Homo sapiens: one gene and its partners. The protein of the gene in region 2 interacts with the protein of the main gene of each other region in a pairwise test. Each region holds a gene or a part of one and is shown on either strand. Other genes may lie near its edges.

Region 1 (3,500 bases), on a different chromosome or scaffold from region 2:
ACATAGGGTGTGGGTGACATGAGGCAGGCACCTGGGCTGCAGAACGCCTGCCCGCGGTCCCTCCCTCCCTTCACCACAGCCTTCCAATCAGCCCATTAAGATTGCAGATTTGCTGCTACACAAACAGTGTCCATGGGGGCGTGAGCTGCCATCCTGTATGAGGCCATCCCCGAGAAGCTTCCGGAAGATGCAGGTGCACACCAGCCCCAGAGGCAGGGATTCTTGATCTCGGCACATCCATGATCGATGTAGCCAAATCACTAATATTGCCTCCCATTCTGTCTTTACTCTGCCACCCATTAACTTCTCTCCTACCGACAGCCTTTCCCACCAGTTTCAATCTCATTGCTTTTTATTTTGGGTGGCTTTTTAGATCCTAGTTCTGGAAGGCATGTGATGAGCAGTAAAATCAACGAGCTCATACAAAGGACTTCCTGCCTCCCCACCTCGATCAGGAGCTGAACTCGGCCAGCAGGACCTGCCAGAACACTACGCCAGCTCCACAGAGTGCTGCTCCGTGGCAGGACCTGGGCACGGGAGAGGCTGCCATCTCTGCTCTCTGACTCCCTGCAAACCAGTGCCTCTCCAGGGCTGACGGAACTGGAAAAGCCTTTAAATGTCAGACCCCCATAATCAAAGCTCTGCGCGTCTCATCAGCGAATGTCAGCTTACTTTTTTGACGCATATTCGTCCAGCAGGTACCGTGTTTGAATATTACGGTAGGACTGGTCGAAGTGCCTATGTCTCTTCTGGTAGAAGGGGACAGTCACAAGGGACATCTTGGCGTGCTCCTACAAAGAGAGTCACACACAACACTGAGCTCCCTCGCAAGCATCATGAGGCCTCTGCCATTTCTGCATCATTCCAAAGGGGAAAATGAACTCCAGTTAATAAAACCCCCTTGGGAAGGGAAAAAATGAAAGATTACATGGCCAGAAATCACCTTAGACCAGCAGTCAGGAAGCCTATTAACTTCCCAGGGACCCAACTTTATTTTTTGTTTTCTTCCACAACAGTTGGAAGATTGGGCTGCTGTTTCATTTCATTGTGAACTCAACAAGTATTCCTAGAACCCCTGGTGTGTTCAGGGCAAAGTTCAAAGCAATATAAGTGGGAAGTACAAAAATAATTAAAGCAGATTAGAGAAGTAAACAAACACTTAGAATACAAGAGAACATACGATAAGAGCCAAGAGCCCGGGGCAGGTAGAAGGTGTCCTGGGAATGGCAGGAGGCCAGGACGGCCGAGTGGCCCACGAGGCAGGTGACATTTGAGAGGAGGCTCGGTGGACAGGTGGGACTGCCAGGCGGAGGTGGGAAAGGAGGGCAGCCCATAAGCAAAGGTCGGGCAGGAGAATCCAGGATCATGGGAGACTTGCAGGGGTGGGTGTGACCAGAAATCACTCTGGAAAGACGCAGCCACAAGCGGAGGTGGCGGGTGTCTGCCTGGGGAACGGGCAGTCTCTCCACCATGCAAAGGGGGATGTGGAAAAAGGGACTGGCTGGAGATGCCCCCTGGAATCTGCCGTCTGAAGTCTCACTGGTTACGGTAGACAGGCGTAGCAGGAGGTGAGCAGGAAAAGTGAGGACAGAGCCTGGCATGAAAGCCTCAGGGATGTGGGGAAATTCGAGAGTGTGGATGAAATTCTCCCCAAACAGGAGATGAGCGAGTTCCATCTTTTTCTCTGGGAACTTGCAGCATTACAGGTATTAGACATGGCAATCTGCTGTACATGTTCACCCAAAACACGTAAAATGCCAACGTGCTGAGTGACTTGATCATCACGGCAAAGTTACGTAGGGACCGTATTCCTAAATCTCTGCAGTCATTAATTTCCCAAACAAGGTGCAAAAGGACTCACAACCTGAGCTCCATTTTTTACTTTTCTGTTTAAATGACGAGGATCTGTCCTTATTTAAAGACAGAACTCCTAGGCCAGGCCCCATGGCACAGCCCCAGGGGTGCCACCCACATCCCGGGCCATGGGTATGAGACTTGGGTGGAAAATGCCAAGGGCTGCTCGGAGATGAATTTGTCATAGTTCAGATCTCCAGGGTACGTGCTAGAAAACCTACCACAGTACATAAATTGCTCCTTATGAGCTGTTTCCTTTGAACTCTGTAATCTCCGAGAATCACAGTATTGTAGAACTTGGAAAGATCACTAGCGATTACCCAAACTCCTATTCTACAGGGAAGAAAACAGGACACGAGGGCCAGAAAGGAGAAATTCTTCCCCAAAAGCATGTAGAAGAGGCTACCCCTGCCCCAAGGCCATCCTTATTCTGGGCCTTTCACACTGCCACACTAACTCTCTCAATATTGCCTCTTAAAACCCAACTAGTCGACCAACCACCCCACCCTGGGAGGGCCCAGCCGTGTTTTAGAGTGCACCAGCATGCATTCTACTCCAGGGATATAACGGAACGTTGCACCTCATAGAACACAATAAAAGCAGCCGGGCGCAGTAGCTCACACCTGTAAACCCAGCACTTTGGGAGGCCAAGGCGGGTGGATCACGAGGTCAGGAGATTGAGACTACCCTGGCTAAGATGGTGAAACCCCGTCTCTACTAAAAAAAATACAAAAAATTAGCCAGAATGGTGGGGGTCCCCTGTAGTCCCAGCTACTCGGGAGGCTGAGGCAGGAGAATGGCGTGAACCTGGGAGGCGGAGCTTGCAGTGAGCCGAGATCGCGCCACTGCATTCCAGCCTGGGTGACAGAGCGAGACTCCATCTCAAAAAAAAAAATAAAATAAAAATAAAAAATAAAATAAATAAATAAATAAATAAAAGCATATCTCCTCCACCCGCCCTGATATTGAAGGCAGTATCATAGTGCAGAGGTCAAGCGCCCAGGTTTTGATGTCTGGTAGACCTGGGATCGAATTCTGACTCCAGCATTCTGATGAGGCCTGGGGTAGCTTCTAGCTCCTCTAGCTCTGGCGTTCCATATTGAATCTGCATCATGCCTGGCCCTGGCCCTGGTACCGAAATCGGTTGCTGTCTCTGTTATGCTGCTGCTGTTATCATGGTTCAAGAATTCTGCAGACAGGAAAAGGTATCTGAGAAAATCTATGTATTGCTTCACTATTTGAAATCTCCCCAGATGCAGCTCACTGGGATTTTCCAATGAGTTAATCAAGGTGGATCTTCAAGAAACGCTTCCTGCTCAGAAACCCATTTACTCTCTCTGGAGTTCACCAGCAGGGTGCTGGGAAGAGCTCACTGAAATGAAGTTGGACCAAGGTTGGGGAAGACGTTTCAGCTTCCATCCGGTTTCCTATCCAAGGTTCTTCTGGGATCAGCCTGACGAATACCAGGCAATTCCACTCCAGCAGACGCATGAGCAATCCCCAGTACCTGCTATTGCAGCAGGGGCTCATGTGTCATCACAGTATCTACTTACACTTATGTTGAGTTAAACCTCAGATGTGTTTGTATTTCTTGGTAAAGGGAAGAGTCAAAATGTGACCTATTAGGTCAAAGGAGAGAATGAGCT
Region 2 (3,500 bases):
ATATTCATGTCCCCACATTCACCTCCACATCTATCCTCTCTTTGTTCCTTTCCCTTCCTTCCTTCCCTCCCAAGCTCCATCCATGCATTCACTCACTCTCTCACCCATCAACCATCTTCTGAGGCCTCCCGTCTACTAGGTCCTGGGCTGAGATCCATGCATTCACTCACTCTCTCACCCATCAACCATCTTCTGAGGCCTCCCGTCTACTAGGTCCTGGGCTGAGATCCATGCATTCACTCACTCTCTCACCCATCAACCATCTTCTGAGGCCTCCCGTCTACTAGGTCCTGGGCTGAGATCCAGGGAGAGAGAACAGTCTGACTGGGTCCCTGATGTGAGATCACTCATTGCCTTGGGAAATGGGTCTTGTCCAACAGACATAGATACAGACTGAGACTATTTGGTGTGATTTTAGAGAGGGTCCCACCGGGGCCTGTGAGAGCCCAGAGCACGAGCAACTCACTGTCTTGTAGGACACGGAATGCCTCAGGGAGAAGGGAACTTTGGTGCTAGGTCTTGTAGGATGAAGAGGAGTCTGGGAGGAAGAGAAGGTAGGGAGAGGTCATGAAGGTAGGGAAACATTTTGTGCAAAGGCTGGGAAGCAGGAGAGAGCCTGAAGTGTTCAGCAAAAGTCAAGCAGCTTGGTTCAGGTGACTTTGGGGGGAGTGACGGAAGTAGCTGGGGTGTGATGGCCAGGCGGAGGGCTGGGGCTTCCTCCTGAGGGCAGTGGGGAGCCACAGAAGAGTTCTGAACATGAAAGGGAGAACCACTGATGTGGGTGTCAGAAATACCCCACAGGATAAAAGAGGACAAATAGGGTGCAATGTATGCTGCTTGGGTGATGGGTGTACCAAAATCTCACAAATCACTACCAAACAGCTTACTCATGTAACCAAACACCACCTGTTTCCCAATAACCTGTGGAAATAAAATAAATAAATAAATAAATAAATAAATAAATAAATAAATGAAAAGAAATACTCTGCGGACCAGGCATGGTGGCTCACACCTGTAATCCCAGCACTTTGGGAGGCTGAGGCGGGTGGATCACTTAAGGTCAGGAATTCGAGACCAGCCTGTCCAACATGGCAAAACCCTGTTTCTACTAAAATACAAAAATTAGCCAGGGGTGGTGGCGTGAGCCTGTAGTCCCAGCTACTCGGGAGGCTGAGGCAGAAGAATCGCCTGAACCCAGGAGGTGGAGGTTGTAGTGAGCCGAGATCACGCCACTGCACTCCAGCCTGGGAGACAGAGTGAGAATCTGTCTCAAAAAAAAAAAAAACCAAAAAACCCAGTGGGGACTGTGCTGGGAAGAGGTCAGAAGACCCCAGGAGGAGGCTGGGGCAATGGACCAGGCGGGAAACAATAAGACCCCTAAAGGGAAGGTGGCTTGGGTGAGTCACAGAGCCAATGAGTGAAGAAGGCAGAGGGACATCCTCCCTTCCTCACTCCCTGATGGCCCCTGTCCGTTCCCCCACCCGCCAGGGAGGTGGTGGAGGAGGAGAAGAAGAAGAAAAAGAAAGATGACGATGACCTAGGCATCCCCCCGGAGATTTGGGAGCTCCTGAAAGGGGCAAAGAAGAGCGAGTACGAGAAAATCGCCTTCCAGTATGGCATCACCGACCTCCGGGGCATGCTGAAGCGGCTGAAAAAGGCTAAGGTCGAGGTCAAGAAGAGTGCAGGTCAGCCCTGGTCTGGGGGGAGCTGGGCCCTGCACACAAGGGACCCCTAGCCTTGTGGGTGTCTAATGATTGGACCCTGGACCTATCTTTTCGAGGTCCCAATGAGGTAGGAGGCAAGACCCAACTCTAGCGGTGGGCCTCGGACACCAGACCAAATTGAGGACTAGCTAAAACAGGGACAGGGTGGAAGCAGCTTTCCATAAGACATGCCCACCAGTGTGCCATGTCAGTTTACCATGGCCATGGCAACAGCCAGGAGTTACTGCCCCTTTCCATGGCAATGACCAGACCACCCAAAAGTTACCACCCTTTTCCTAGCAATTTCTGTATAACCTGCTCCTTAATCTCTAGGTAATTAAAAGTGGGTATCAATCTGACTGCAGATCTGCCCTGAGCCGTTGCTCTCTGTCTCTGGGGTAGCCCTGTTCCGCAGGAGCAGTCAGAGGGCTGTAACACTGCCACCTCAATAAAGCTGTTTTCAGGCTGGGTGCAGTGGCTCACGCCTGTAATCTCAGCACTTTGGGAGGCTGAGGTGCGCAGATCACCTGACGTCAGGAGTTCGAGACCAGCCTGGCTAACATGGTGAAACCCCATCTCTACTAAAAATACAAAAGTCAGCCGGGCATGGTGGTGTGCACCTGTAATCCCAGCAACTTGGGAGGCTGAGGCAGGAGAATCGCTTAAGCCAGGGAGGCAGAGGTTGTGGTGAGCTGAGATTACGCTGTGGCACTCCAGCCTGGGGAACAGAGTGAGACTCTGTCTCAAAAAAATAAAATAAAATAAAAAATAAAATAAAATAAAATAAAATAAAATAAATAAATAAAAATAAAGCTGTTTTCTTCTACCTAACACTGGCTTGCCCTTGACTTCTTTCCTGGGTGAAGCCGATAACCCTTGCAGGCTAAGCCCCACTTTGGGGTCCCCTGCCCTGCATCACCACCAGAGAAGTTCTCAAGGATCTCTAAGTTCATAGGAGGCCCCCTGACTTCCTCACTTTGACCTTGGAGAGCCCAGGGCCTGGGGAGGGAGATGTGGTGCCTCTGGGGATGACCAGGGGAATGAGGACCACACGCCTCCATCCCCTTTGCATGCCTCAATCTTCAGCATTCACAAAGAAGCTGGATCCAGCCTACCAAGTGGACAGAGGCAACAAGATCAAGTTGATGGTAGAGATCAGCGACCCAGACCTGACCCTCAAGTGGTTCAAGAACGGCCAGGAGATCAAACCAAGCAGCAAGTATGTGTGGGGTGGGCAGTCCCTGCACCGGGGAGATCCCCGTCCAGAGAGAACGCCCGGAGACAAGGCCTATCACTCTTAACCAGAAAGGGCATATTCACCCCTATATGAAGAGTACAGGCCGGGCACAGTGGCTCACGCCTGTAATCCTAGCACTTTGGGAGGCCGAGGCGGGTGGATCACCTAAGGTCAGGGGTTCGAGACCAGCCTGGCTAACATGGTGAAACCCCATTTCTACTAAAAATACAAAAAATTAGCCGGGTGTGGTGGCACATGTCTGTAGTGCCTGTAATCCCAGCTACTTGGGAGGCTGAGGCAGGAGGATCGCTTGAACCCAGGAGGCAAGAGGTTGCGGTTGCGGTGAGCTGAGATCTCGCCACTGCACTCCAGCCTGGGCGACAGAGTGAGACCCTGTTAACAACAACAACAACAAACACATCACAAGACAACCTTTTTTAAATTAATTACCTAATTTTGTTTTGAGACAGAGTTTCGCTCTTGTTGCCCAGGCTGGAGTGCAATGGCATGATCTCAGTTCACTGCAACCTCTGCCTCCCAGGTTCAAGAGATTCTCCTGC
Region 3 (3,500 bases), on a different chromosome or scaffold from region 2:
ATAATGCATATTACATCAATATACCTATGTATTTTTCCCACTATGCCCAGGTATTATTTTATTTTGGGCATAGATTCCATGCAGCTTATTCATGACAGCCTTGCTTTCAAATCCCCTCTGAAAATTTCACCTAAATTAGTATCACCTTGATTAAATTATTTGTTATTTTTGTTTTAATATTTTGTCTGTATTCTTAGAGAAACTGGAAGAAAAATGCAGATTTCTTAGGGCATCTTCCATATATCCAGTAAGAGTATGAACTAGAAAAAACATGAAAGAGAGATGGCAAGATAAAGGAAGTAAAATTTGAACCTATGTAAGAAATAGAAAGAGAACTTAAAAAAGAAAGTGGGGTTGGTAACTAAGGAGTTTAGCAGCCAAAGTATGTGGAATGAGGTCCAAGATAGAAATTCTTAAATTATCTCTACAATAAATGAAAAAGTGTCAGTTGGACACCTACTATATGCAAAACACTATGTTGGCAAAATAGGGCTTGAGAAAGAAGCTTGAGAATTCATTCACTAAAGAAACATTGATTATATACCTACTATATTCCAAATACTGTGCTATGCTTTGAGAATAGGAGGGTGAAGGATTCAGTGTCTGCTTACAGTTTCATATTTGTCATATAACATAGCATGTGCCCCAGTGAGTAAGTGTATGAGGACTATGGAATTAATCGTGTTCATAATACCCTTTGACTATAAGATCTTTAATTTTAAGCAAAATTTCATGCTATTGATGGCATGTTTCTGTGTATTTTTGTGGTTGTTAATAAAGGTTCCAATGAGCCCATGGAAGCCTTTGTTGGAGAAATGACATCATATACCTTACACAATCTCAATCCCAGCACCACCTACGATGTGAATGTTTATGCTCAATATGATTCTGGACTCAGTGTCCCCTTGACAGATCAAGGCACTACATGTGAGTCATGGATATTTTCATGGTTGTGAGAAAAACTGTAGTAGAAATTACCAGGTCAGCCTGTTTTAATTTCCTGTTTCTGAACATATACATGTTTCCTCAGCATTATGTAGGCAGGCTATTTTGTGTCTGGTTAGACAAAATACCTATTCAAATACATAAATATTATAATTGAGTATATAAAAATATATATGGTGAGAAATTTGTGTATTTCACATAAAATATTATACTTTGAATTTTAAAAGATAAAAATTATAGAAATTGTCATTTTATCCATGAATGACCTGTAAAATTAGATCTGTGATGCTACTTAGTTCTTCTTGACATTTGATACCAAGATATATATTACCTAAATTCATTGATTTAATTTGACTTAATTATTGAATCATGATTAGTGTGATTCAGTCCACAGATATATTTTAAGGTCACCATTGCTTTGATAACTATTTAACGACTTAGCAGATAGCCTTTTAGAAATTGTTTTCATTATTTTCCATGAGATGTTTTTGAAATTCTTAGTTTTGAGAGGGACTATATGGAATTTCCTTTCCTTGAAAATCAGCGAAAGAAAGGGGGGTCTATTTTGGCAGTACCACATTTTTAAATATGATTCATGTATGTTTCTTATAAGGAAACATAATACAATTTTGAACTTTTTTTTAGCCACAGTGAAAGTTTGAAAATTGTGTTATGATTAAAAGTACACTTTTTGCCTCAATTTACAAAGTAAATCTCTTTCTTTCTTTATTTTGTAGTATATTTAAATGTAACAGATCTGAAAACTTACCAGATTGGGTGGGATACATTCTGTGTCAAATGGTCACCTCACCGGGCAGCCACCTCCTACAGGCTAAAACTAAGCCCTGCAGATGGTATGTGTGTAAAAAAGAAAAAAATGATCTGGAGCATGTAGTGGAAACATTTTAAATTTCAGTAAAGAAGATGCCATTTTGTTTATAACAATGCGATATAAAATTTTCTTGAAATATAATTGGTGATGACACTGGCATTTTCCTTTGTTGTCATAATCAGGAACAAGGGGACAAGAAATTACAGTGCGTGGATCAGAAACCAGTCACTGCTTCACTGGCCTTTCACCAGACACTGATTATGGTGTCACTGTTTTTGTGCAGACACCAAATCTCGAGGGACCAGGAGTCTCTGTTAAAGAACATACCAGTAAGTTTTTGAGGAATCTGGAAAGCTTTCATAAGGCTTTAGAATAGAATGCTCTAGGTAAGGAAGACTTAAGTGAATCCTGTGCAGGTACCTCTCCGTAGGGGTAGCAATAATGATGGGATGATGGCAGATTCCTGAATGTGGAGTCTAAAGCTGGTTCAGGACCTTTTTCTGTAGCAATTTGCAAGTTGTCCCTGTTATTGAGTTGGTGCTACTTTGAGGAAGGGCTAAAGGAGGGAGAGATGGCTCTCGCTGAGAAGGTGAATTCATATTAGTGACTTTTACTCATTTGACCCTATCTGAAGGCCTTACATTTTCCCTTTAGATCTTTATTTTCTGTAGCTGTAGTGGATGTTGAATGACTACCAGTGACATCAATTTGGATGGAATAAAATCCCCAGCATGTCAGTACCGATGACAATGGTGTCTCATTTTGTACGACTTGATTTGGTATCCAGGATTTAAATTGCTCTTAAAATTTACTTTCTGGGATATCAAATGTGCACATGGTGTGTTTTTATAATTATTATTTTTAAATTTTAGCTGTGAAACCAACAGAAGCCCCTACAGAGCCACCCACACCTCCTCCCCCTCCCACCATTCCACCAGCCCGGGATGGTAAGTACAGCTAAATAGGCAATACGTTCAGCTGATAGGGAGTTACAGACTTCTTATTTACGCTGCATGTGCATCATTTACAATTAATATAGAACATTTCTGATCTATTATTGCTGCTGAAGAGTTTTTAGATTGAAAGAAAAGATAACCAGTAATTTGTTTCTCTCCATCTCTGGGCACATTTTGGTGTGAATAAAATCAGTCATAAATTATTCCAGATCTTCAGCTGGAAGTCTGTTTCCTCAGTTTTACAGATTTAGGTCTTCCATGGTCCATAGTTACATGGTGGACATTTCTTTCTGCTAGCTGCTGGCATCAGTAAGCGCTGTGAACCCTTTTGGCTATATTTGCGACCGAAGCCCTGAGGCTGTTGGCTTTAAAATTCCTGGTGTCCAACCTGAGAAGTTCCCTGGATTATACAATGCTAAAAAATTTTCCATTCACCAAAATTTGAAAGATAATTGTAACTTGCAGTGAACTGGTGAAACGACATACTGATTTATTAAGGTTGATCTCTCAGCATTTGAGGGCAATTCTCTAGCACTTTGTCAAATTAAATTTAGTTAAATAACTACTGTATTATTCTTTTCTCATATGCTGTTTCCAGCATTTAATAGAAAGCATTTCAGATATTTTTATTTTATCTTAGAAGGATGTCGAACGTTACAACTTCGTTAAACCTATTATATAAGTAAAATTAAAAATTAAAAGTGTATTATTGTGGGGTAAAATAATAATGGATTCCTTTAAATTAGATACAGAAAGAAATTCAGTAA
Region 4 (3,500 bases), on a different chromosome or scaffold from region 2:
AGGAAGTTAATCCCTGAAAGTTTACTTAGAAATTTCAGGCAGCCAGCCAACCCTGAAAGTGGTCCTTGAAATTGAATATACTTGTTATATAAAGAGTGGTAACAATAAGAAATACTAGTACCCCAAAGGAAAAATGAGAAAACGACATGCATAGCTAATTCACAAAATAATTACCAATGTCTGCAAAGCATTTTTAAAAAGGTTTAGTCTCTCCAGTAATTAAATAAAGGGATACAGTAGTCCCCCCCTTATCTGGAGGAGATATGTTCCAAGACCCCCAGGGGATGCCTGAAACTACAGATAGTACTAAACCCGTATTATGTACTGTGTTTATTCCCATCTATACATATCTATGAGAAAGTTTAATTTCTAAATGAGGCACAGTAAGAGATTAACAACAATAACTAATAATAGAACAATTATAACAATATATTGTTATAAAAGTTAGGTGAATGTGGTCTTTCTCTCTGTGTGTCAAAATATCTTACTGTACTGCCCACGGGTAGCTGAAACCCTAGAAATCAAACCCAAAGATAAGGGAGGACTACTGTATTTTTAAATGTGTTTTTTTTGTCTGTTAAATTATATATATTTTTAAAACAGAAATGCTCATTGCTGCTGAGCATGCAGAGAGAAGACAGGCCCCCCTTTTACTTCTGCTGGGAGCACTAATGGTTTTACTGTGTGGAGGAAGAAATTTGATAACATATAGTAACAGATTTAACAATATTTATGCCCTCGGACTCTGTCATCCGACTTCTAAAATCCTTCTAAATAAATAACCCAATAAATTTTAAAAGTCTAGGTTCTGGGATATTTGTTGCAGCATTATTTACCCTATCAAAGAGTTGGAAACAACCTAAATGAACCAAAATAAGTAGTTTACTAAATAATTATGGTCAACCATCCCATACAATGTTTGGCAGTCATTAAAAACCGAACTTTAAAGAATAGACAACTACATAGTGAAATATATTCCGAAGTGAAAAAAGCCATCTATGGAACTGTATATGCACAGTGTGACATTTCATAAGCTTGCAGAGAAAATCAGCTATGATGCATGCAAATGTTAACAGTGCTTGTCTCCATGTAGTGGAAGTAGGGGTGGCAGTCTCCCTTCTTTATACATTTCTGAAGTTTCCAAATGTTTTACAAAGAGCAGGTGCTGCTTTTATGTTCAGAAACCCTACATCTTTTTTTTTAAATAATGAAGTGGCCCTTATGTTTTTTCTGGCCTGGTTACTCTCCAGGCCACTGAGCAGAGCCTTCGTGCCCCTAACCAAGTGCTCTCTGTCCCCTCAGGGCAAGCTGGAAATGACCTTGGAGATTGTAGCAGAGAGTGAGCATGAGGAGCGGCCTGCTGGCCAGGGCCGGGATGAGCCCAACATGAACCCTAAGCTTGAGGACCCAAGGTCAGTGCCCAGCCCCTGAGCCCCAATGCCCACAGGTCTGGGGGTATAGGCCACAGTCCAGGAGGCATCCCATTGCATGGCCATGTAGAAGTCACAAAGCCCACGTGGCTCAGAGAGGGGCACGACTCATCCAAGGCCACACAGTAAGTTAGGGGGAAGGTGATGGGCATCTGTCCAGAGAACACTGGGCTCAGCGAATTCAAGATGCAGGTGCTATTGGGTACCTGTTGGTTGTGTGCCAAGCATGCTATCCTATGCATGTGTACATTGTGCTATGGAACCTTCCCTGCAGGGTAGTTGTTATTATCCCCATTTTACAGATGAGGAACAATCTCAGCAAAGTTAAATAAGGGCATTCCAGCTAGGACAGTGGTGAAGCAGAAATGCTCTCACCTGGTCTGATTGGCTCCAGAGCCCGATCAAGGTCTTGACCCTACCAAGCTGCCTTCGGTGGCTCTCCTATGGTGCCAGTGTGACTTTCAAATGGTTTTTCAGCCTTCATTTTTCCATCTGTGAAATGGGGAGCCCAATCCCTGTCTTCCCTACATCACAGACCTCTTGGGGAGATAGACCAAGCCAATGGATGTAGATGCTGTGAAGGCAGTTACAGGGGCAGAGTCACTGAAAGATGGCTGTGGGGGCTCAGGAATGTGTTTGCTGGATCCCGCCCCACCAGCCTACTTGGCTCAAGTTGGATTTAGCATAGATGGCTCAGTTAGTCACCATGCTGTGATTAGCACCGTGTGCCTGAGTGCCATGGGGCTGGCAGAGCAGTGAGAGGCACCCTTGCCTAAGGATGCTGGGATCTGCACAGGAAGAAAAGAGAGACCCGTGAGACACCAGTGTGCAATCTGATGTTAACGGGGCCATGATGGAGACCCAGAATCCTCCACGTATTTTGAGATGTGGAGCTGGCCTAGGGAAAGGTTTTGAGATTCTTGGTTGTGAGAGAACCAGCTTCCTATGTTCTCTTCCCACCGTTGTTCCCTGAGCATGGACTAGCCATGTGCATCTGGGCAGGTGTCTTGGCTTATCTGGGGCTCGGTGGGCTGGAGAGCACTTTGAAGCACTGCCCAGCTCCTAAATCTGCAGTTTGTGATTAAGTCCTGGGTCAGGAATGGGTGAGGGCACCAAGGAAGGTGTCCTGGAGAGGATGGCAGAGAAACTGGGCCACTGAGGATGCTTAGGGCTTGGCAGCACCCAGAAGAGGAGGGCAGCACAGGTGGGGGTGATACTGTAGCAAGGGCTTGGGGGAGAGGGAATGCAAGGTGCAAAGGGCTAGTTTAGGGACAGGGCCTGGGCAGGCGCTGGGGGTGGACTGTGGAGGGCCAGGCCATTGGACCTGCTGTTGAGAGAAGAGTTTGGAGAAAGCAGCCCTAGTAAAGGATGCCCAGTTGACCTCCGGGATCTCGCTTCCAGGCGCCCCGACACCTCCTTCCTGTGGTTTACCTCCCCATACAAGACCATGAAGTTCATCCTGTGGCGGCGTTTCCGGTGGGCCATCATCCTCTTCATCATCCTCTTCATCCTGCTGCTGTTCCTGGCCATCTTCATCTACGCCTTCCCGGTGAGCAGGCCTGACGACACTGTGGTGGGGGAACTCTGGGTCTAATGGGGGAGTTCATCATTGTCCTCAAAGAGCTCTCCCAGTCTAATGGAGAGAAGTAACCTCTGTCCTTGGAGAGCCCCTGGTCTGATGAGGATACAGAGCCCAGCTCTGGGGAGTCTCCAATCTGGTAGGTGTACAAAGTTCTACCCTTGGAGGCTCTTAGTCCAGTGAGAGAAACTGAGTTCTTGCCCTTCATGGTGAGACAAAGCTGTCCTCAGCAAGCCCCTAGAATTTGTAATGAAGGGGTTAGGAGAAGATGAGGCCCTTTGGGTTGCGGTGGGCAGGGGGACTTTCTGGAAGGGAGGTGTGGAACTGGGTCTGAAAGGAAGGTGAGATGTTGATGGCAGAGCAGAGAAGGTCCCTTTGTCTTAACAGCAGTTGCAAATCCAGAGGAAGGGAGGAGCTGGGGCTGGGAGAGCATCTCAGGGTCCACCTGAGGCACTCAATAGAGTGTGTCCTGCCTCCTGCAGCAGGTGGGC
Region 5 (4,051 bases), on a different chromosome or scaffold from region 2:
GAGAATGTTGGGGGCAGCAAACTGAAGGGCACAATAAGAAGCAATAAGGCCACCTCAAAGCCCACCCAAGCAAACTGCTCATTCACCTCCTTCCTTCCTGAATTTCACCTTATGAGGAGGTGAGTGGAAGATAGGGTATCCCTTAAAACATCTAAAAGGAGAGTTGGGGGCAGCAAAGGAGATGTGCTTCACGGGACTCTTATAAACAAAACTGGGGAGAGAAGAATTGGAGGAAGGGGGAAAGACATAGATGAAAGGGAGGGGAAGGTGTGGGAGAGGGAAACGTATAAAAGCTTCCAAGAGGAGTGGGAGGCTGGGGGTTCCCCAGACAGAGACTCAGTCTGGACCAGATGCAGAGAACAATGGACTTCAAGGCTGGAGGGGGGCAGAAGGGAAGCGGGAGGAGAGCCACACGGTCAAGTTGCACAGGTTCTTGCAGCTTCTGGAATCAAGACCATGGGCACCCTCATAAGTCAGTGTGGGCAGGGACTGCCCCAGGGCCAATCCAAGATCCAGAGGTAGCCATAGGGTGTGACAAGTTGTGCAGATTACAACACTCACCCCTTGCAATAACGTCACTGCCTGTGACTCGGGGCCAGGCCCAGGCCAAAGCCCTTCCTACATCATTTCGTTTAATCCTCACAGTTTCCTGCTGAAAGGGCTACTATTCTTACTCCCATCCCCACTCTACAGATGAGGTAATGGAGGCCCAGGAAAGTTAAGTGACTTGTCCCAGATGACACCGCTGGTAAGTTGCAAAGTCAGAATTTGAACTCAGGCAGTTTACCTCTGATGGCTGCTCTGTTAATCACAGCTGCTTTCCAGTGAGACAAAAACGGGTGATCAGGGCAGAGTCAAGACAGAGAGGTAAACAAGATTGGGAAAAAGACAGGAATGAGAGGGGAACAATGGGGGAAAAGATAGGAACAAAGAGAGTTGGGGAAGGGGAGAGAAACAGGAAACATGACTTGCCCGGGAGGGGCATCAGTCCACGTGCAAGCAGGTGGAGGCTCAAGTTTTCTGCTCACTTGGTGATGCAGAGGCTCCCTTTCCCTCAGCAGCCGCCTTGCTGCGTGGACAGCAGCTTCCCATCTGGCCTGTCCCCGGAGCCCCGGCCTCATCCTCCTCAGCGGCAGGCCACTTAGCTTCACAGGAAATGCTCTTTCTCTAATTGGCATTGAAACTCACAGCCCTCCCTTTTCCTGTAGGTGGGGTTTCCATAGGAAAAAGCTGCTTCTCTGTTTCCCCAGCCTAGCAACTGTTTGGCAGTCAGAGTCCCACATCCTGCTCAACTGGGTCAGGTCCCTCTTAGACCAGCTCTTGTCCATCATTTGCTGAAGTGGACCAACTAGTTCCCCAGTAGGGGGTCTCCCCTGGCAATTCTTGATCGGCGTTTGGACATCTCAGATCGCTTCCAATGAAGATGGCCTTGCCTTGGGGTCCTGCTTGTTTCATAATCATCTAACTATGGGACAAGGTTGTGCCGGCAGCTCTGGGGGAAGGAGCACGGGGCTGATCAAGCCATCCAGGAAACACTGGAGGACTTGTCCAGCCTTGAAAGAACTCTAGTGGTTTCTGAATCTAGCCCACTTGGCGGTAAGCATGATGCAACTTCTGCAACTTCTGCTGGGGCTTTTGGGGCCAGGTGGCTACTTATTTCTTTTAGGGGATTGTCAGGAGGTGACCACTCTCACGGTGAAATACCAAGTGTCAGAGGAAGTGCCATCTGGTACAGTGATCGGGAAGCTGTCCCAGGAACTGGGCCGGGAGGAGAGGCGGAGGCAAGCTGGGGCTGCCTTCCAGGTGTTGCAGCTGCCTCAGGCGCTCCCCATTCAGGTGGACTCTGAGGAAGGCTTGCTCAGCACAGGCAGGCGGCTGGATCGAGAGCAGCTGTGCCGACAGTGGGATCCCTGCCTGGTTTCCTTTGATGTGCTTGCCACAGGGGATTTGGCTCTGATCCATGTGGAGATCCAAGTGCTGGACATCAATGACCACCAGCCACGGTTTCCCAAAGGCGAGCAGGAGCTGGAAATCTCTGAGAGCGCCTCTCTGCGAACCCGGATCCCCCTGGACAGAGCTCTTGACCCAGACACAGGCCCTAACACCCTGCACACCTACACTCTGTCTCCCAGTGAGCACTTTGCCTTGGATGTCATTGTGGGCCCTGATGAGACCAAACATGCAGAACTCATAGTGGTGAAGGAGCTGGACAGGGAAATCCATTCATTTTTTGATCTGGTGTTAACTGCCTATGACAATGGGAACCCCCCCAAGTCAGGTACCAGCTTGGTCAAGGTCAACGTCTTGGACTCCAATGACAATAGCCCTGCGTTTGCTGAGAGTTCACTGGCACTGGAAATCCAAGAAGATGCTGCACCTGGTACGCTTCTCATAAAACTGACCGCCACAGACCCTGACCAAGGCCCCAATGGGGAGGTGGAGTTCTTCCTCAGTAAGCACATGCCTCCAGAGGTGCTGGACACCTTCAGTATTGATGCCAAGACAGGCCAGGTCATTCTGCGTCGACCTCTAGACTATGAAAAGAACCCTGCCTACGAGGTGGATGTTCAGGCAAGGGACCTGGGTCCCAATCCTATCCCAGCCCATTGCAAAGTTCTCATCAAGGTTCTGGATGTCAATGACAACATCCCAAGCATCCACGTCACATGGGCCTCCCAGCCATCACTGGTGTCAGAAGCTCTTCCCAAGGACAGTTTTATTGCTCTTGTCATGGCAGATGACTTGGATTCAGGACACAATGGTTTGGTCCACTGCTGGCTGAGCCAAGAGCTGGGCCACTTCAGGCTGAAAAGAACTAATGGCAACACATACATGTTGCTAACCAATGCCACACTGGACAGAGAGCAGTGGCCCAAATATACCCTCACTCTGTTAGCCCAAGACCAAGGACTCCAGCCCTTATCAGCCAAGAAACAGCTCAGCATTCAGATCAGTGACATCAACGACAATGCACCTGTGTTTGAGAAAAGCAGGTATGAAGTCTCCACGCGGGAAAACAACTTACCCTCTCTTCACCTCATTACCATCAAGGCTCATGATGCAGACTTGGGCATTAATGGAAAAGTCTCATACCGCATCCAGGACTCCCCAGTTGCTCACTTAGTAGCTATTGACTCCAACACAGGAGAGGTCACTGCTCAGAGGTCACTGAACTATGAAGAGATGGCCGGCTTTGAGTTCCAGGTGATCGCAGAGGACAGCGGGCAACCCATGCTTGCATCCAGTGTCTCTGTGTGGGTCAGCCTCTTGGATGCCAATGATAATGCCCCAGAGGTGGTCCAGCCTGTGCTCAGCGATGGAAAAGCCAGCCTCTCCGTGCTTGTGAATGCCTCCACAGGCCACCTGCTGGTGCCCATCGAGACTCCCAATGGCTTGGGCCCAGCGGGCACTGACACACCTCCACTGGCCACTCACAGCTCCCGGCCATTCCTTTTGACAACCATTGTGGCAAGAGATGCAGACTCGGGGGCAAATGGAGAGCCCCTCTACAGCATCCGCAGTGGAAATGAAGCCCACCTCTTCATCCTCAACCCTCATACGGGGCAGCTGTTCGTCAATGTCACCAATGCCAGCAGCCTCATTGGGAGTGAGTGGGAGCTGGAGATAGTAGTAGAGGACCAGGGAAGCCCCCCCTTACAGACCCGAGCCCTGTTGAGGGTCATGTTTGTCACCAGTGTGGACCACCTGAGGGACTCAGCCCGCAAGCCTGGGGCCTTGAGCATGTCGATGCTGACGGTGATCTGCCTGGCTGTACTGTTGGGCATCTTCGGGTTGATCCTGGCTTTGTTCATGTCCATCTGCCGGACAGAAAAGAAGGACAACAGGGCCTACAACTGTCGGGAGGCCGAGTCCACCTACCGCCAGCAGCCCAAGAGGCCCCAGAAACACATTCAGAAGGCAGACATCCACCTCGTGCCTGTGCTCAGGGGTCAGGCAGGTGAGCCTTGTGAAGTCGGGCAGTCCCACAAAGATGTGGACAAGGAGGCGATGATGGAAGCAGGCTGGGACCCCTGCCTGCAGGCCCCCTTCC
Region 6 (3,500 bases), on a different chromosome or scaffold from region 2:
TCTAGTATATAAAGAAAGGGAAAAGATGGGACTAGACAGAAAGTCTCCTCTGTTAATTGACTCATTGCCATTTATGCCTCTCCCTTTTTTCTTTCCTTTTCTTCCTATTTACTTCCTACCTATCACATGTGTCTGGAAGAGTGGAGGGATAACCAGGAAGGGTATAGGTACAGAATCTTCTAACATGTTCTTATATTAGCTACAGCAAATGTGGGGGCAAGAGCCCCCACTGATGACACTAGTGGTGAGTGAAGAAGTCAGGTGGGGTAAAAGATTGATGTTTGGCTTTTGAGAACTTGATTTTTTCTATGTCTAGAGGGAGAGGAATATTTATGATGGTATTAATTAGAATTTCTACTGTATATCATTTGTAGCTATCAAGTAAGTGAGCTGTTTAGAACTTGCCCCCCTCAACCCTTACAAATTGCTTAATAATAAAAATATCTCGGCTGGGCGTGGTGGCTCATGCCTGTAATCCCAGCACTTTGGGAGGCCGAGGTGGGTGGATCACTTGAGGCCAGGAGTTTGAGACCAGCCTGGCCAACACGGTGAAGCCCTGTCTGTACTAAAAATACAAAAACCAGCCAGGTGTGGTGGTGCATGCCTGTTGTCCCAGCTACTGGAGAGGCTGAGGCATAAGAATCACTTGAGCTTGGGAGGCAGAGGTTGCAGTGAGCCAAGATCACACCACTGCACTCCAACCTGGGTGACACAGCGAGGCTCTGTGTCAAAATAAATAAATAAATAAATCTTTTGAAGTCTTATTCTGTAATTTGGATTTGGCGGGACAAATTCATATTTATAAAATCATCCCTCTTAAAATGAGTGGTAGATTTTCACTTTGTCTTCTTCCTTATTGACGCATTCTCTTAAAACACTTTCTACTGCAAAAGAAATTTCCTTCTTTCCTCAAGGGCTTAAAGATACTTACAGCCTCCTCAGCTTGTCTCTTGTATGATTTCACCTTCGCCTGTAATTTATCTACCAAGTCCTGCAGCCTGAGAACATTCTTGCGATCTTCTTCAGTCTGAAAGTTTGAAAAAAATAATCTGCATTCATTCCGAAGAGATAAGGCTACTCTGGGTACTAAAATAAAATCATTTGGCATGATGGCAGGTGGGCCTGGGGTAAACTTGATCAACTCTGAGATTTTCTTCATAGAATTAACAGTAGCACTCTTGGTAAATGTTTCCACTGTGCAGGTACTGTATTAGAGAATTGCACACATCCTCTCCAGTCCTTACCTCCCCATCCGGGAAAATAGACACTGTTATCTCTATTTTACAGGTGAAGAAACTGAGGTTTAGAGTGTTAAGTTCAAGAAGCAAGAGAGGCCAAACTAGGACTAATACCCAGTTAATCTGCCTTTAAAATCTGTGTTCTTTACTGTCATGCTATTTTCTAAACTTTAGAAATCTGAAGGCCTCCCTAAGTTTTAGTATAGGTCTGTGATAAGCAACTGTCTTTACTCCTTACATGTACCAAGTTAATGCGTATTTGTTTGTGAGTGGCATATAAATAAATAGTCATAAGGTTTTCAATTTCCTTCTGGGCAGGAAGAGTGGATATTCTGGAAGGCTATTCCCTTTACCTGGTAGGTGAGTTCTTTTACTCGTCGCTCATGTTTCCGTAAACCTTTAACAGCCTCTGCATTACGTTTCTGTTCATTTTCAACCTCTCCTTCAAGCTCACGTACCTGCAGCCAAGAAAAATACTTACGCAGTCAGTCTTGGGGGATATTAATTAGCCCAAGACCTACTGAAGGCATGGGGTGGGTGTTCCCAGCCCCAGGACAGGATGGGAGTCTTGTGTAGGAAGAGAGAAGGGTAGAGAGAGTGCCCTTTTTCCCTTCCCAGATTTAGAGAGATTGAGACACCCACCCTGGCCTCCAGTTTCTGGATCTGCTTCTTCCCACCCTTCAGCGCCAGCTGCTCGGCCTCATCTAGACGATGCTGCAGGTCCTTCACCGTCTGCTCCAGGTTCTTCTTCATCCGCTCCAGGTGGGCGCTGGTGTCCTGTTCCTTCTTCAGCTCCTCAGCCATCATGGCAGCCTATTTAGGAAATAAATTAAGAAAGTAATGAAACTTGATGATAGCAGGTGCATACGTGTCAGTAGGCCAAATGTTCATCTTACATCAGTGATGGCCTTCTTGGCTTTCTCTTCTGCATTGCGTGATTCTTGGATTACTTCTTCCACTTCACTTTGGAGTTGGGAAACGTCATTTTCTAATTTCTTCTTGGTGTTAATGAGACTGGTATTCTGTTAAAAGTAGTCGTGGAAATTTACAAAATTTGCAGTTTGCCCTCTTGGGATTTTACAAGTGTCTTACTTGTTGGTTCGTGCAGGGGATCTGCTGGCAACATTTCACTAAACTTTAATTATTTGTTCAGTGGAAAATGTTAATTATTTGCAAGGTAGGAACTCCTTTCCCCCAACTTCCCCAGTGTCCACCTGATTTATGCATAAGGACTTCTGAGGTTTGAGAATGCCTTTATTGGCATACATTAGTTAATTGTTCTTTTAATTATATTTCAGTCAGACATCACTAGTTATTCTATCTCTGGAAGGTTGGAAATAGAAAAGAATAGATTCGTTTTGTGAGTGGCAGGCACTGAGAGTTTCTTGCTTTGAAAGAATCTATTCTCTCTGAATTTTTATGATTTGTTCTGTCGGAGAGCACTGAATTTGTCTTATGAAAACATGTTCTTAAGATTTCAACTCAGTGTTTCTAGAGAGAAGCAATATCGTCTCAACAGGTATTTGAAAATGTTTAGGGGCAGATATTTTTGGTTGTCAAAATGACTAGGGGGTGCTACTGCATTTAATGCCTGGGCAGGTTAGGAATGCTAAATGAGCTGTAAGGCATGGGGACAGTGAACACAGCAGTGCTAAATGCTTAAGTGCTACCAATGAGAAACACTGCATGGAACATTTTCAGATTTTGGAGGCAACAGGTATCTTTACTCAATAGTATTCTACCTCATGGTTTCCAAAATAATCTAAATAGCCAAATCTTATTTTTAAATAAAAAAGTAATAGCTTTTTTTTTTTTTTTTTTTTTTTTTTTTTGGTGAGGGGTAGAAACCCCAAGAAAGAAACAGGAACACACACCAAAAAAACAAAAAAAAATCACCCATAATCCACCAATTACCCTAAGATAATAGCAATGAGTATTTTTGAGCATATCCCCCATCCATGTTTACATACACATATTTATACAAATTGAGTACTTTCATGTTATAATTCGAATGCATCAGCTACCAGTACACCAGCATTTGTTTGATGTGAGGGTCTCACCTGGGTGTGGAGGAGCTGGACACGCTCACTGGCATCCAGGAGCTCCTGTTCGGCGATTTTCCTGCTTCTCTCTGTCTGTTCCAGAGTGGCCCACAGCTCCTCGATCTCAGCCTGCAGCAGGTTGGCTCTGCGCTCCACAATTGCCAGCTGTTCCTTGAGGTCCTCCTGGCCCCGGAGAGCATCATCCAGGTGGAGCTGGGTT

The links.
Region 1: the proteins of MYBPC2 (region 2) and MYOM2 interact in a two-hybrid assay, tested with the Homo sapiens proteins (one large-scale study listed by BioGRID and IntAct).
Region 3: the proteins of MYBPC2 (region 2) and COL12A1 interact in a two-hybrid assay, tested with the Homo sapiens proteins (one large-scale study listed by BioGRID and IntAct).
Region 4: the proteins of MYBPC2 (region 2) and DYSF interact in a two-hybrid assay, tested with the Homo sapiens proteins (one large-scale study listed by BioGRID and IntAct).
Region 5: the proteins of MYBPC2 (region 2) and PCDH12 interact in a two-hybrid assay, tested with the Homo sapiens proteins (one large-scale study listed by BioGRID and IntAct).
Region 6: the proteins of MYBPC2 (region 2) and MYH8 interact in a two-hybrid assay, tested with the Homo sapiens proteins (one large-scale study listed by BioGRID and IntAct).

What each region holds. Positions count from the first base shown.
Region 1 is NC_000008.11:2,048,046-2,051,545, reverse strand, and holds part of MYOM2 (myomesin-2), read right to left. Parts: intron 792-3,500; 5' UTR 780-791; coding exon 673-779; intron 1-672. UniProt on the Homo sapiens protein: Major component of the vertebrate myofibrillar M band. Binds myosin, titin, and light meromyosin. This binding is dose dependent.
Region 2 is NC_000019.10:50,439,392-50,442,891, forward strand, and holds part of MYBPC2 (myosin-binding protein C, fast-type), read left to right. Parts: intron 1-1,488; coding exon 1,489-1,685; intron 1,686-2,789; coding exon 2,790-2,922; intron 2,923-3,500. UniProt on the Homo sapiens protein: Thick filament-associated protein located in the crossbridge region of vertebrate striated muscle a bands. In vitro it binds MHC, F-actin and native thin filaments, and modifies the activity of actin-activated myosin ATPase.
Region 3 is NC_000006.12:75,122,554-75,126,053, reverse strand, and holds part of COL12A1 (collagen alpha-1(XII) chain long), read left to right. Parts: intron 1-780; coding exon 781-927; intron 928-1,682; coding exon 1,683-1,799; intron 1,800-1,959; coding exon 1,960-2,106; intron 2,107-2,649; coding exon 2,650-2,724; intron 2,725-3,500. UniProt on the Homo sapiens protein: Type XII collagen interacts with type I collagen-containing fibrils, the COL1 domain could be associated with the surface of the fibrils, and the COL2 and NC3 domains may be localized in the perifibrillar matrix.
Region 4 is NC_000002.12:71,679,699-71,683,198, forward strand, and holds part of DYSF (dysferlin), read left to right. Parts: intron 1-1,302; coding exon 1,303-1,412; intron 1,413-2,831; coding exon 2,832-2,979; intron 2,980-3,500. UniProt on the Homo sapiens protein: Key calcium ion sensor involved in the Ca(2+)-triggered synaptic vesicle-plasma membrane fusion.
Region 5 is NC_000005.10:141,955,403-141,959,453, reverse strand, and holds the start of PCDH12 (protocadherin-12 precursor), read left to right. Parts: upstream 1-1,251; 5' UTR 1,252-1,602; coding exon 1,603-4,051. UniProt on the Homo sapiens protein: Cellular adhesion molecule that may play an important role in cell-cell interactions at interendothelial junctions. Acts as a regulator of cell migration, probably via increasing cell-cell adhesion.
Region 6 is NC_000017.11:10,390,951-10,394,450, forward strand, and holds part of MYH8 (myosin-8), read right to left. Parts: coding exon 3,299-3,500; intron 2,261-3,298; coding exon 2,135-2,260; intron 2,052-2,134; coding exon 1,881-2,051; intron 1,697-1,880; coding exon 1,592-1,696; intron 1,028-1,591; coding exon 932-1,027; intron 1-931. UniProt on the Homo sapiens protein: Muscle contraction.